Homo sapiens: one gene and its partners. The protein of the gene in region 1 purifies or fractionates together with the protein of each later gene. This does not show direct contact. Each region holds a gene or a part of one and is shown in the gene's direction. Other genes may lie near its edges.

Region 1 (3,500 bases):
CTTTCTGGCTGCTTCCCCTGGAAACCTGATGAAGGTAGGTGTCAGCTGTGTTGCCAGGCAACGTGACTTAGGATAGCAATTACCCTTATTAGTAAATTGCATATATGAAAATATTTGGTGGGACGCCATGTCCAGTCCTATGGAGTTGTCACCTGACTTGTTGGCCCCTGTGCACAGAAGGCCTCTAAGCCCAGGTGCACCCTGTACCCACCAATGTGGATCATTGCTTAGCTCCTGGATCTCACCTGGGGGCCATGCATGCTTCTACATGCATTGCAGGAGGTCACTCATTTAATCCTTGCAACAACCCAGGAAGGGCAGTGAGATGTTACCCACTTTACAGAGAGGACACCTCGCTTGAGAAGAGAAATGACTTGCCTACGTCATGCACCCAGGAAGTGGCAGAGCTGGGATTTGAACCCGAACCGGCCTGTTTCTATGGCCTGCTGATGGCTTATGCAGTTCCTACAACATAAGTGCCCTGCAGACAAAGCTGGGGTCTGACCTGCCCACTTGGTTCCTCAGTGCCAAGTATCTAATATCTCCCAGCTAGGAAGTGCTGGGAATGTGGCTGGAAGGAAGGAAAAAGTCAAGTAAAGCACGGGGATTTGAGCCTCAGTTTCTTCTCTGTGAAGTGGAGCTAACATTTCTCAACTCCCAGAGTTTTTATTTTTTTTAGTTTTCAATTTTTGAGACAGTCTCGCTCTGTCGCCCAGGCTGGAGTGGAGTGTAATGGTGCGATCTTGGCTCACTGCAGCCTCTACCTCCCAGACTCAAGCGATTCTCCTGCCTCAGCCCCCCAAGTAGCTGGGATTACAGACATGCGCCAGGCTAATTTTTGTATTCTTTGTAGACATGGGGTCTCACTATATTGCCCCAGTCTGGTCTCAAATTCCTGAGCTAAAGTGATCTGCCTTCCCTGGACCTCCCAAAGTGCTAGGATTACAGGTGTGAGCCTTCATGCCTGGCCCATTATTTTCTTACCCATGATTCCCCTTAACCCCTAAATATTCCTAAATTTACTACCTAATGTCAAGCCCATTCTCTTACACAACCACAGTTCAATGATCGATTTCAGGAAACTACCACTGAGACAACACTATTAGAATCCACAGACCTTATTTGTATTTTGTCAGTTGTTCCACCAATGTTTTTCCCTCCCTCCCTCCCTTCCTCCTTCCCTTCCTTCCTTCCTTCCTTCCTTTTTCTCTCTCTTGCTCTTTCTTTTTTTTTTTCCTTTTTGGCAGAGTCTTGCTCTGCCGCTCAGGCTGGAGTGCAGTGGTGTGATCTCGGCTCACTGCAACCACTGCCTCCCTGGTTCAAGTGATTCTCCTGCCTCAGACTCCCGAGTAGCTGGAATTACAGGTGCCCACCACCACGCCCAGCTTATTTTTGTATTTTTAGTAGAGACGGGGTTTCACCATGTTGGCCAGGCTGGTCTCGAACTCCTGACCTCAGGTGATCTGCCTGCCTCGGCCTTCCAGAGTGCTGGGATTACAGGCATGAGCCACTGTTCCTGGCCCCACCAGTGTTTTTTCTAGCAAAAAATTCACAAAAAAAAACAAACTTTTTTTTTCTTGGCTCAGGAACACAGGTTGCATTTAGTTGTCATGTTTATTTGCTTTTAAAAAGTTAACATTCTCCTCGTTCAAAATTCACATGGTGTGGGAGGATATTCAGAGAAGACTCTGCGGCTCTTGTTCCCCCTCCTACGCTGTTCACTTCCTGAGGGCCACCAGGGTTACCAATTTCCCATGTGTTCCCCAGAGATATTCTGTGTTGACACAGCTAGTCATGTATGTACTTTCTCCCTCTTTTATGCATACCTAGTTTATTCTATGCTGTTCTGTACTCGCTTAAAAAAAAAAAAAAAAAAACTTTAAGAGATAGATCTCACTGTCGCCCAGGCTGGAGTGCAGTGGCATGATCATGGCTCACTGCAGGGTCAACCTCCTGGGCTCAAGTGATCCTCCCACCTCAGCCTCCTGAGTAGCTGGGACTACAGGTGCACGCTACCACACCTGGCCTTGGTTTTCTCTTGGATATTATGTTCTGTTTTTTTTCTTTTCTTTTTTGGATATTATGTTCTACCTGGATGTAGGATGCATCTTCCTCTTGTTCTACACTGCAGAATTGTCCTTAGAGTCACTTGGGTGCGGTGGCTCACGCCTGTAATCCCAGCACTTTGGGAGGCCGAGGCAGGTGGATCACTTGAAGTCAGGAGTTCGAGACCAGCCTGGCCAATATGGTGAAACCCCATCTCTACTAAAAATACAAAAATTAGCCTGGCGTGGTGGCACATGCCTGTAATCCCAGCTACTCGTGAGGCTGAGGCAGAAGAATCGCTTGAACCCAGGAGGCGGAGGTTGCAATGAGCCGAGATTGTGCTACTGCACTCCAGCCTGGGCAACAGAGTGAGACTCCAACTCAAAAAAAAAAAAAATGGTCTATGGAGTGCATAAGCCATGGTTCATTTACCTTGTCCCCTTCTGATGGGCATTTAGGTGGTCTCCAGGCTTTTGCTAGCACAGATGGCACTGCAGGGAATCACCTTGAACTCAGATCACTTTGCATGTGTATGAGTGTATCCATCCGCTGAATTTCTAGAATTGGAATTGGGGCTCCATGGTTTATGCATTTGTCATTCAGATTTTTTTTAAAAAAGCCAAGTTGCCCTCCATAAAGCTTGTTCCAGTAGAACACCCCCAGTATCATGTGAGGGCATCTGGGTTTCCTACATAGCCACCAGCACGGTGGGTTTTTTGTTTTTTTGTTTTACTTATTTTTTTTGAGACAGGCTGTCACTCTGTCGCCCAGACTGGAGCGCAGTGGCACAATCTCAGCTCCCTGCAACCTTGACCTCCGGGGTTCAAGCGATCCTTCCACGTCAGCCTCCACAGTAGCTGGGACTGCAGGCACGTGCCACTATGCCCAGCTAATTTTTCTATTTTTTTGTAGAGACAGAGTTTCACCATGTTGCCCAGGCTCATCTCCAACTCCTGGGCTCAAGCAATTTGCCTGCCTCAGCCTCAAAGTGCTGGCATTATAGGTGTGAGCCACTGCGCCTGGCTGCAGTGGGACTTTTTTTTTTTTGCGACAGAGTCTCGCTCTGTCGTCCAGCCTGGATTTCAGTGGCGAGATCTCGGCTCACTGGAACCTTTGCCTCCCAGGTTCAAGCAATTCTCCTGCCTCAGCCTCCTGAAAAGCTGGGATTACAGGCATGTGCCACCACACCTGGCTAATTTTTGTATTTTTAGTAGAGACGGGGTTTCACCATGTTGGCCTGGCTGGTCTCAAACGCCTGACCTCAAGTTATTCACCCGCCTCGGCCTCCCAAAGTGCTGGGATTACAGGTGTGAGCCACCACACCTGGCCCACAGTGGGATTTTTAGAAAGAGTTTTATTGAGGCATAATTCACGTCCCTATACAATTCATTCATTTAAAATGTACAGTTCTGTGTCTTTTAGTATATTCAACGTTGCGCAAACATTACCACAAT
Region 2 (3,500 bases), on another chromosome or scaffold:
AAAAGTATTCAGGTTATATTTTATGTTCAGTGAGATTTTATATAGTTTGTCATACTGTCTTGTTCCATTCTTATTATGTTTATTTATCATTACGTTTATTCTAATAGAGATTGGTTTACTTAGACTTTCTGCCTATATATCATCTGCAAATAATTACCTCACCCCTTCCAGTATTTGTTGTCTTACATTATTGCATTAGTGTAAGCTCCAAAATATGGAAAATCATGTTAACTTTGAACAGCTTTTTTACATAATTTAATGAGAATGAACAGTGTTTTAACACAGTATAATTTGTGCTATTGGCTTTTGATATTCATCATGTTTAAGAGATTGGCTTTTATATCTGTTTCATTCTAAAAAATGTCTGCCAAAAATTATCCAGTTTTCACATTTATATATTTTATTTTTCACTTTAAAATTATAACACAGTGGATTATGTTGCCTTTTTGTTCTTGGGATAATAATAGTTTACACTTATTGAGCATTTGCCATGTGCCAAGCACTGTCCTAAGGACTTTCTACTTACCTATCTAATCTTTATAACAACCCCATGCTGTAGGAACTATTATGATTTCCATTCTAGAGATGAAAAAACTAAGATAGGAAGGGGAAGTAATTTGCCCAAGGTCACGTAGACAGTAGTAACAATCCTATGTTTTTCTTTGCTTCAGGTTTTGATTTGCTGGTATTTTATTCAGGATTTTATTATATACCTGTTCATAAGTGAGCATTTTCAGTAATATTTTTCTTTATTCTCACATCAAATTTGAATTATATGTTACCATTGAAAAAGAAATTGGAAGTGTTTCATCTTTTTTTATGCTATGGGATAATAAGAATCATAGAAATTATCTGATCCTTGTAGGCTGTACACAGCTGTCTTGTAAAATCATTAAGCTTGATAGCTTATTTAGTGGTAGATGGTAGAAATTTAGCAAATATTTGAATTTCTTTCTTTTTTTTTTTTTTTTTTTAATATGGTTTCACTCTGTTGCCCAGGCTGGAGTGCAGTGGCATGATCACGGCTCATTGCAGCCTTGACCTCCCCGGGCTTATCTTCCCACCTCATCCTCCCTGGGAACACAGGCATGCCCCGCTATGCCAGGATAATTTTTCTATTTTTTGTAGAGATGGGGTTTCACCATGTTGCGCACGCTGGTCTCGAACTCCTGGTCTCGAGTGATCCGCTCGCCTCAGCTTCCTAAAGTCCTGGGATTATAGGCATGAGCTAACATGCCTGAGCTTGAATTTCTAGTATAGTTACGGATCTGATCATTTATTCTGCCTTTCCTTAATTGTAGATATAGAGCTTTTTAGCATAATAATTGCTTCTCTATATTAAAAATTTACCGATAAAAAGTTGCATTCAGCATTCCAGTAATTCTCTTAATCTCTTAGTAGTTTTAAATTTCCATTTTCATTCTAATGTTATCTATATTTTTTTCTTAGTTGGGCTTTCCAAGGGTTTGTCCATTTTATTCAGCTTTTCAAGAACCAACTTTCATTTTATTAATTCTCATTTTTCTTTGATTTCAGAATCACCACTGTTGTCTTTATTAATTTCATCCGTATACATTCATCTTTTATTTACTTTGTTGTTTTTCTAGGTTTTTAAAAGTTGAAGTCTTAGTACACCTAGGTTTTTAAAAGTTGAAGTCTTAGGACATCTCTCTCTCTCTCTCTCCCCCCTCCCCTCCCCCCTCCCTCCCTGCTCCCCCCCCATATATATATAACTTTCAAGTTTGGGGTACATGTGCAGGTTTGTTACATAGGTAAACTTGTGTCATGGGAGTTTGTTGTACAGATGACTTCATCACCCAGGTTTTAAGCCTAGTACCTGTTAGTTATTTTTCCTAATCCTCTTCCTCCTCCCACCCTCTGCCCTCCGATAGTGCCCAATGTGTGTTGTTCCCCTGTATGTGTCTATGTGTTCTTTCCGTTTTGCTCCCATTTATGAGTAAGAATATGCGGTATTTGATTTTCTTGCATTAATTTGCTAAGGATAATGGCCTTCAGATCCACGCATGTTCCTGAAAAGGACATGATCTCGTTCTTTTTTATGGCTGCATTCCTTAGTATATTTTTAAATAAAAATCATTTATTTTATGCCATGTATTTTATATTTTGGTTTTGTTTTGTGTTTTTTTCTTCACAGCAGAAAGTAAAGGCTAATAGACCAAAAACTTTTAAAAAGACAGTAGCTAAAGTAAACATCTCCATTTCACTTAAAAAATGTATAATAGTTTTAACCAGTCAGGTAAATACATTTTTAAATGCTAATAGTCATTTATTCATCAAATGTTTATTGAATGCCAGTTCTTTTTCAAAGAGATTAGATTTTGTTGGTGAAATAGACAAACCAGAATAAGTACTGTTAAGAGAAATAGAATACTGTGGAAACACATGGTATTTTTTAGGGTAAAATATTAAGTATCCACTTCCTTCATTCTTCAAAGATTAGCATAAAATTTCTCTTTGTGATTTTGTTGTTGTTGTTGTTGTTGTTTTGTAGGGGAGACAGCATCTCACTTGGTTGCCCAGACTGGAGTGCAGTGGCATGATTAATAGCTTATTGCAGCCTCTAGCTCCTGGGCTCAAGTAATCCTCCCACTTTAGCCTCTGAGTAGCTGGGACTACAGGCATGCACCACCACACCTGCCTAATTTTTAAATTTTTTTTAGAGACAGGGTCTTGCTATGTTGCCTAGGCTGGACTCAATCTGCTGGCCTCAAGCAATCCTGCCTCAGCCTTCCAAAGTGCTGGGATTACAGACATGAGCCACCACACCCACCTGTAAAGTTTTATTACTTGTCTGTACTTTAGATTTTGCATAGATATTTTCCGTAATTTATAGTTTCAGAAATACACCTGATGGAAGTAAATAACACTTGCTCGGCATCTTGTAACTCAAATTTAGGGCTGTCTAGCTCCTTTATTTCTTCTGGAAAAATCTAGAAAGAACATATTGTCTTCTATCCTGAATATATAATCTCTAGTAACCAGGGTTTAAGTAATAGTAGATGAATTAGACTGAATGAAGACTTGAATTATAGCTTTGACAGAACTGCAGAGTTTGCAGAATACTAAGTTTTGTAATATGGGAATTATACCGGGGTGTGAACACAGGGCTAATTGTTCATTCATTCATCTCCTGTATATTTAATGAACACTTGATGCTAGGTCCATTTCTAGGTTCTGGGAATACAGCAATGAATCAAATAGACAAAAATTTCTGCCCAAGTTGTTTTCTTATAATGGAGGATATAGACAATAAGGCATATAAGTAAAATTACATGAATGATAGCGGTAAGTATTAGGGAGTGAAAAAAGGGAGGAGGAATAGGAAGTATCAAAGTCAGGATAAGGTGTTACAATTTTAGATAGGATGGAGTACTAATTGATGTATGCCAAATAACAAATCACCTCAAAACACAGTGGTTGAGACCATGAGCGTTTATTTCTTGCCCACAGATTTGTGGTTGACTGCAGTTTGTCTGCTC
Region 3 (4,168 bases), on another chromosome or scaffold:
AAAATTTCTCTGGTTGAAATACGTAATAACTGTTAATACTACTGCTCAGAAAGACCCCCTGCCAAAAGAAGATCATACAATCAAGCCTGACATCAGTGAGGCTGGAAAGAATGCTCCTCCTACAGGATGCACTGCAGTCGCATGGCAACGGGCGATGATGTGTAATCCTTAACTGGAAAAGCAACTTAATAGTTAGGAACAACAATACCACCTACCAGAGAATAATAGTACCTTCCTTATGCATGTGAGATTAAAATGAAGTGAGGCACATGCAATGCTTAACACAGTATTCTACACTTAATAAAAGGTTTGATAAATGTTAGATGCCATTATTATGATTACCACCTCCTGGTGCTGCTGAAAATTTTTCTCTTCACCGTACTGGGCTAAACCTCACCTGAGAGCAATAAAAGCAGGAGCTGTAATTACTTCCAATATTTAATTTGGAGACAATAAAGCTTTGAGTCTACGAGGAATAGGCTTTGGAGTAATGTGGACTCCTTATTAGGACAGATGATCTTAGACAAGTTATTTAAACTGTTTGAACCTTACTTTCCTCAATTCAAAGATTTGAGACTTGGAACTGTGTTGTAGGCTTGTCATTAGGGCCAAGTTAGCCCAATCCTGTACACATAGTGGGTGCTGAGTATTTGAATTAGTGAATGTGGATTTTAGACTTATTTCAGATAGTCAATGAACTGTATGCATAACATAACCACAATACTGCCTTTTCCATCCTTTGGGTCTCAGCTCAAATATCATCTTCTCAGAGAGACCTTCCCTGACCACCTGATTTAAAGTACCTCCCGTGCCTCCAGTCACTTTTCCCCGTTTTCTTGTCGTTACAACTCTGGTAACGCCCTGAAATTGTCTTGTCCATTCACTGTTACGTAATATCTGTCTCTGCCACTAGAAAGTAAGCGCCATGCAATCCGGATCATGTTTTCTTATTTCCACCTTCTGCCGTGGACCTCTGGCATTCTCGTCTGTAAAACTTAGGGGAGATGGTGAGGAAAGGGAGAAACACGAGGTCTAGCCGGTCCACCCGGGTCTCAAGCCCCGCCCAACTCAGGCCTCGCGTTCCTTCCAGGCTGGGCACCGCCTTTGGTCACCCACGTGGCCCGCAGTAAGGCCCCGCCCTTTGTGGGTGTGGCCTTTCACGGCGTGCGGGCCGTCCACCGGCGGCGAGCCACGTCACACGCACGCAGGCCATGCGCCGCGCCTGTTCTCGCCGCGGGCGGAAAAGGGGCGTGGCCATGCGCGAGGACCCCGTAGCCGCCAGCGCCACCGCCTGAGTCGCCTGCAGGTGGCTGTTCGCGTCTCCCTGCCGTGCAGGCAGCTCGAAAGCCACTCTGTTGTGGGGTCCTCGCTTCCCTTCCACGTCTCCCGGAAGCGGTAGCAGGGCCCCGGCGGGTCGGGGAGGAGGTTTACTCAGCTTGGGCCCCCTCCGGGCCAGCCGCCGAGGGGGCGCGGCCCAGGACGGCGGCTAGGCCGTAGTGCAGCCTCTCCGGAGTCCTCAGGTGAGGCGGAGGCGAGGGCCCACTGGACGAGACGGGGGTGTTAACGGTCCTAGGAGCGGGGGCGCAGTCCCTTCAGTGGAGACCCTGGTCTCTCCGTTTTCTTTCGGGTCGCGCTCATCTTCGCCCTGTTAGGGGCTGAGGAGGGTAACTGGAGAGACTCCTTGGGCTTCAGCCGACGTCGTTTACTGCCCTCCTCTGTCTTCCTTTCTCCTGACCCCTGCCTGGCCTGGCCGTTCTTCCCGCACGGAACGAGATGGGTGGGGAGCAGAGTGGGGGTCTCTGCTCGCTTACCTGAGATTCCCCAAACTGACAGACCCCAGGGCTCTACGGACTGGGCCTGACCGACTGACCTCCAGCCTCCCTCCCTCTGTGCTGACGCCTGGCCTTCGAAGCAGGCCCTGCCGCAGCCCTTTGCAGACCCATCCCCATCCCACGCACTCTCTGCCCCTGGGCAGTGTCTGGGGAATTGACGGGTGCCTCTGAAGTCCTTCGTGTCTTTGAGATGTTTGCCCAGGGCCCATCTAAGTATTTAATTAGGTAATCGACATTAATTGCAACATTAGTAGCAGTTGCATGGTATGTTTTAAAGCCCAATTAATTTTGAAATGGGAGGCAAGATATAAAGAATTAATGAGCGTGTTTTGATTTTTTATTACTTTTTTTGTAGAGACAGGGTCTTGCCATGTTGCCCAGGCTGGTCTCAAACTCCTGGCCTCAAGTGGTCCTCCCCGCTCGGCCTCCCAGTGTGTTGGGATTACAGGCGTGAGCCACAGTGCCTGGCCTGTATGGTGTTCTGTATGTTACAGAGCATTTCATCTCCATTTTCATTTGATTTTTTATAAACTCCGAAATACATAGGCATTTAATAGTCACATGTGTAAAGAACAGATTTAAAGGATGAGTTTCTTCTTGAGGTTTTTTAGATTTTGAGCTGTATGGTATAGGGAGGCAAGGGTTAAAAGTAGGTTTGGCACTAGGGTAACTTAGACTTGAGTATCTGAGCTGCTGTCTAAACTCTGGGATCTTTCTAAACCCTTTCCACATTTGCTTTAAAAAAAGGATATTGCTGTTTACCACATAACGTGGCTGTGAAAATTACATGTGATAAAAGATACATGTGTACCTGTGTACAGCATCAGTCATATAAAAATTCCACTCAGCAGTATTTGTGAGTGCCTACTGTGTGCTAGACTCTGGGAATTCATTGGTGAGCAAAACAGACATAATCTTTATCCAGCCACTGCCCCACTTTCCCCAAGAACAAGAAGCATGTTAAAAAAATACGTAATTATAAAACATGAAGGACTGTGAAGCAAAAGAATAGGGTATGTACAGATAATGATTGACCTAACTTAGCTGGAAAGGAGAACTCTGAAGCAAATGACATTTGAGTGAAGACCAAGAACAAGAAAGTTAACCATGAAAGAGTTCTTGGCAAAAGGAACAACGTGCACATTCTAGAAATGGTTGTGGACTTTATTATAGAGCCCTTCTGTATCTATATCTTCATCATTACTTTGATGTATTGTGGCACACAATAAGTACTCAAATATATGTATGGAATGAGTGGTTATGCAATTTTGGTTTTTATTCTGGACTTAGCTTAATGTGCACATGGTAGGTATTGAGTATGTGAATTATTGAACATGTACTTTAGATAAATTATGTGCACACCTAAATTATATGTAATAGTGCTGCAGTTTAACATTAAGATAGCTTTTGTATTTAACGGAAACGTTTTTTCAAGTTTTAGCACTTTAAAACAAACTTCAGTGAATTTTATTTTTATTTGGTTGTACTGGAGTTTTGCCATATTGGTTATTTGCTGTTTGGATGTTGTTTTAATTTGCTGCTGTAGCAAAGTACCACAGATTGATTGGCTGGGCCAACAGAAATTTATTTTCTCTCAGTTCTGAAGACTTGAAGTCCAAGATCAAGGTATTGGCAGAGTTGGTTTCTTCTGAGGCGTACTTCTTTTGCTTGCAGATGTCTGCCTTCTCCCTCTGTCCTTTCTGTATGCCTGTTTGTGTTGAAATTTCCTCCTCTTAGAAGGACATGCCAATTATATTTGATTAGGGGCCACCCTGACGACTCATTTTAATTATCCTTTTAGAGATCCTATCTCCAAAAACAGTCACATTCTGAGGTCTGGGGGTTAGGACTTAAATAAAGGAATTTGGAGGGATGCAGTTCAGCCCATAACAGATGCTTTTGCTACATTAAGATTTGCCCGGCCGGGCGCGGTGGCTCACGCCTGTAATCCCCGCACTTTGGGAGGCCGAGGCGGGTGGATCATGAGGTCAGGAGATCGAGACCATCCCGGCTAACAAGGTGAAACCCCGTCTCTACTAGAAATACAAAAAATTAGCCGGGCGCGGTGGCGGGTGCCTGTAGTCCCAGCTACTCGGGAGGCTGAGGCAGGAGAGTGGCGTGAACCCGGGAAGCGGAGCTTGCAGTGAGCCGAGATTGCGCCACTGCAGTCCGCAGTCCGGCCTGGGCGACAGAGCGAGACTCCGTCTCAAAAAAAAAAAAAAAAAAAAAAGATTTGCCCTTCTTTGAAATAGTAATAATAAAAACAGTAATTTATTATTACTTTGAAATAGTAATAATAAATAATAAAAATAGAAATAATAATAAAAACAGTAGTG
Region 4 (3,500 bases), on another chromosome or scaffold:
CAGACAGTGACGGGCCCTCCTGGGAGGACAGAGGCTTCCCAAGCCAATGCCTAAGCTGCTTTCTGCTTTGCAGGGCAAGGAGGAGGAGCTACAGGATGTACGGGATCAGCTCGAGCAGGCCCAGGAGGAGCGGGACTGCCACCTGAAGACCATTAGCAGCCTGAAGCAGGTCAGTGGTCACTGCACAGCCCCAGACACACCCCTGATCCTCAGCGTACAGGAGGGGCAGGGAGGGAGCATGCTTCAGGCAGCCCTTCCGGCATCTACCAGCCATGCCTGCTTTCTCCCACAGGAGGTGAAGGACACAGTGGATGGGCAGAGGATCCTGGAGAAGAAGGGCAGTGCTGCGGTAAGACAGAGCGGTGCCCAAGCACGGCTCCCTCCTACCTGTAGCCTCCCTCCTATGGGCCCACTGGGCCTCAGTCCTCATGTTACCCCTGTCCCCCACAGCTCAAGGACCTCAAGCGGCAGCTGCATTTGGAGCGGAAACGGGCAGATAAGCTGCAGGAGCGACTGCAGGACATCCTCACTAACAGCAAGAGCCGCTCAGGTGAGGGACTAGGACAGGGAGAGGAGGCTGAGGCATGGGGGAGGTAGGGCCTGGGCCTGCAGGCTGCAGGTTAGTCCTGCATCTTCCTCAGCTGTGCTTTCCTGCTTCTGTCGCTCTGGAACTCCATCTTTTACCTTTTCTCTGTCTCTCCTCTGATTCTTTCTCTGCATTCTCTCTTTATTTCTATCTTTCTCTCGTTTTTGCCCTGTCTCTTCTCTGTTTCTGTCTCTGCCTCTGTCTCAGTTTGTTCTCTCTCTTTCCTCTATGTTTGCCTTTATCTCCTTGCTTTCTTTCTCTAGTTTTCTCCTTTTCTCTCTCTTTTTTTTTTTTTGAGACAGAGTTTCGCTCTTGTTGCCCAGGCTGGAGTGCAATGGTGTGATCTCGGCTCACCGCAACCTCTGCCTCCTGGATTCAAGCAATTCTCCTGCCTCAGCCTCCTGAGTAGCTGGGATTACAGGCATGCACCACCACGCCCAGCTAATTTTGTATTTTTAGTAGAGACGGGGTTTCTCCATGTTGGTCAGGCTGGTCCCGAACTCCCGACCTCAGGTGATCCGCCCGCCTCAGCCTCCCAAAGTGTTGGGATTATAGGCATGAGCCACTGGGCCCGGCCCCCGCCCTTTCTTTTCTCTGTCCCTTTATCTCTTCCCGCCACTCTGTGTCCTCTTCGTCTCTTCTGTTTATATCTCTGTCTGTCTCCTCACTGTATGTACTACATTACACACTCCCACACCTCACTTGGCATTTCTAAATCTATTGTATACAATCTCTCATTCTATAAATCTCCCTGCTCAAGTACAGGGTCCCTGATATAAAACTCCCTGAGTCTCTGCCCTCTAGAAGCCCCCAGTTGAGCTACGGAGACAGACTTATACATAGTCAGCAACGCTGTGGTGTTTTCATTATACAGCTAATCCAATCTGTTATTTCTGCCACTTCAAGCAGAAGACACACACACACACACACACACACACACACACACACACACAACTTTAGTTGCTTCAGCCTTTTTTAAGACGGGGATGGCCTATAAATACATTTAAGTAAGTAAAATGCAGTGATGGCTCTGGTGCATCTCTTAGATTACAGACTCAGAGAAAACTTGGTCCCTTATTCCCCCACTCGGGATACCTACGGATCCCCACTCAGTCACCCCACCCTTGCCAGAGATCCTCGAGGGCTTTAAGTGATGTGGCAAAACAGATGTGTATCTCTCACCAAATCAATTTCTCTCTGAGGCACTCGGTCTCCTGAAGTAACCTTTCTTTAAAAAGGAGTTTTGTTTCTGTTTTATCACAGATGAATGTAAGAATCTTGGGAAAGGTGTAATCCCAGCACTTTGGGAGGCCAAGGTGGGTGGATCACCTGAGGTCAGGGGTTCAAGACCAGCCTGGCCAACACGGTGAAACCCCGTCTCAACTGAAAATACAAAAAATTAGCTGGGTGTGGTGGCGGGCGCCTGTAATCCCAGCTACTTCGGGAGGCTGAGTCAGGAGAATTGCCTGAACCCAGGAGGCAGGGGTTGCAGTGAGCCGAGATTGCGCCATTGTACTCCAGCCTGGGCGACAAGACTGAAACTCTGTCTAAAAAATAATAATAATAATAATCTTGGGAAACGTTACAATCGTATACCATACATTCAATACATTCACCTTGTCCATTAGATTAAACTGAGATTTAGGTGCGTGGGTACGAGAGCCTGCTTGCATTTCTTTTTTTTTTTTTTTTTTTTTTTTGTTAGACGGAGTCTCGCTCTGTCGCCCAGGCTGGAGTGCAGTGGCGCGATCTCGGCTCACTGCAACCTCCGCCTCCCGGGTTCACACCATTCTCCTGCCTCAGCCTCCCAAGTAGCTGGGACTACAGGCACCCGCCACCACGCCCACCTAATTTTTTGTATTTTTAGTAGAGACGGGGTTTCACCGTTTTAGCCAGGATGGTCTCGATCTCCTGACCTCGTGATCTGCCCGCCTCGGCCTCCCAAAGTGCTGGGATTACAGGCGTGAGCCACCGCGCCCGGCATCTTTTTTTCTCTCTGTCTCTGCTCTGGCTCACTTCTTTCACCAGGGTCTCAGTTTCTATCATCTGCTCTGGCTTTCCATCTCTGGCATTTTCTTTCTGCAAGTGGATGTGCCCTGTGCCCTCTCTAGCTGTCTTCCTTTCTCTGAACCCTGTGTCCAAGTGTGTCTGCCACTTGAGACCCATGTGTACCCATGTCGTTCTCTTTCTCCAACCTCTTCCATTTTCTCCCTCTCATTTTGTATGTGTTTCTCCAGAAAGGCAGCTCTTTCTTTTCTTTCTGTTTTTTTTTTTTTTTTTTTTGAGACAAGAGTCTCACTCTGTCACCCAGGCTGGAGTGCAATGGTGCGATTTCGGCTCACTGTAACCTCCGCCTCCTTGGGTTCAAGCGATTCTCCTGCCTCAGCCTCCTGAATCGCTGGAATTACAGGCACACACAACCACACCTGGCTAATTTTTGTATTTTTAGTAGAGACGGGGTTTCTTCATGTTGGCCAGGCTGTTCTCGAACTCCTGACATCAAGTGATCAGCCCACCTCAGCCTCCCAAAGTGCTGGGATTACAGGTGTGAGCCAGTGCGCCCAGCCTCAGCTCTTTTTTCTGTCTCTGTCTCTCCCTGTCCTCCTGTCTGCTTCTGCCTTTCCCCATGCCCAGGTGTCTCTCTTTCCATCTCTGTTAAATCTATTTCTGCCTCTTCCTGCTGGTTGCTGCCCTGGGACTCAGGGGTATTGGGGCTCAAGTTTCTCTTCCCTCCACCACCCAGGCCTTGAGGAGCTGGTTCTCTCAGAGATGAACTCACCAAGCCGGACCCAGACAGGGGACAGCAGTAGCATCTCCTCCTTCAGCTACCGGGAGATCTTGCGGGAAAAGGAGAGCTCGGCTGTTCCAGCCAGGGTAAGGGGAAAGGAAGAACCTACAGCTCCAGCTTCTCTCA

The links.
Region 2: the proteins of PHLDB3 (region 1) and DZIP3 purify together in Homo sapiens (affinity purification with mass spectrometry, with the first as the bait; one large-scale study listed by BioGRID). This does not show direct contact.
Region 3: the proteins of PHLDB3 (region 1) and GOLGA5 purify together in Homo sapiens (affinity purification with mass spectrometry, with the first as the bait; one large-scale study listed by BioGRID). This does not show direct contact.
Region 4: the proteins of PHLDB3 (region 1) and GRIPAP1 purify together in Homo sapiens (affinity purification with mass spectrometry, with the first as the bait; one large-scale study listed by BioGRID). This does not show direct contact.

The regions. Positions count from the first base shown.
Region 1 is NC_000019.10:43,487,747-43,491,246, reverse strand, and holds part of PHLDB3 (pleckstrin homology-like domain family B member 3), read left to right. Parts: intron 1-3,500.
Region 2 is NC_000003.12:108,592,722-108,596,221, forward strand, and holds part of DZIP3 (E3 ubiquitin-protein ligase DZIP3), read left to right. Parts: intron 1-3,500. UniProt on the Homo sapiens protein: E3 Ubiquitin ligase proteins mediate ubiquitination and subsequent proteasomal degradation of target proteins.
Region 3 is NC_000014.9:92,792,937-92,797,104, forward strand, and holds the start of GOLGA5 (golgin subfamily A member 5), read left to right. Parts: upstream 1-1,368; 5' UTR 1,369-1,520; exon of another isoform or gene 1,521-2,057; intron 2,058-4,168. UniProt on the Homo sapiens protein: Involved in maintaining Golgi structure. Stimulates the formation of Golgi stacks and ribbons. Involved in intra-Golgi retrograde transport.
Region 4 is NC_000023.11:48,978,265-48,981,764, reverse strand, and holds part of GRIPAP1 (GRIP1-associated protein 1), read left to right. Parts: intron 1-73; coding exon 74-169; intron 170-292; coding exon 293-349; intron 350-450; coding exon 451-550; intron 551-3,329; coding exon 3,330-3,460; intron 3,461-3,500. UniProt on the Homo sapiens protein: Regulates the endosomal recycling back to the neuronal plasma membrane, possibly by connecting early and late recycling endosomal domains and promoting segregation of recycling endosomes from early endosomal membranes.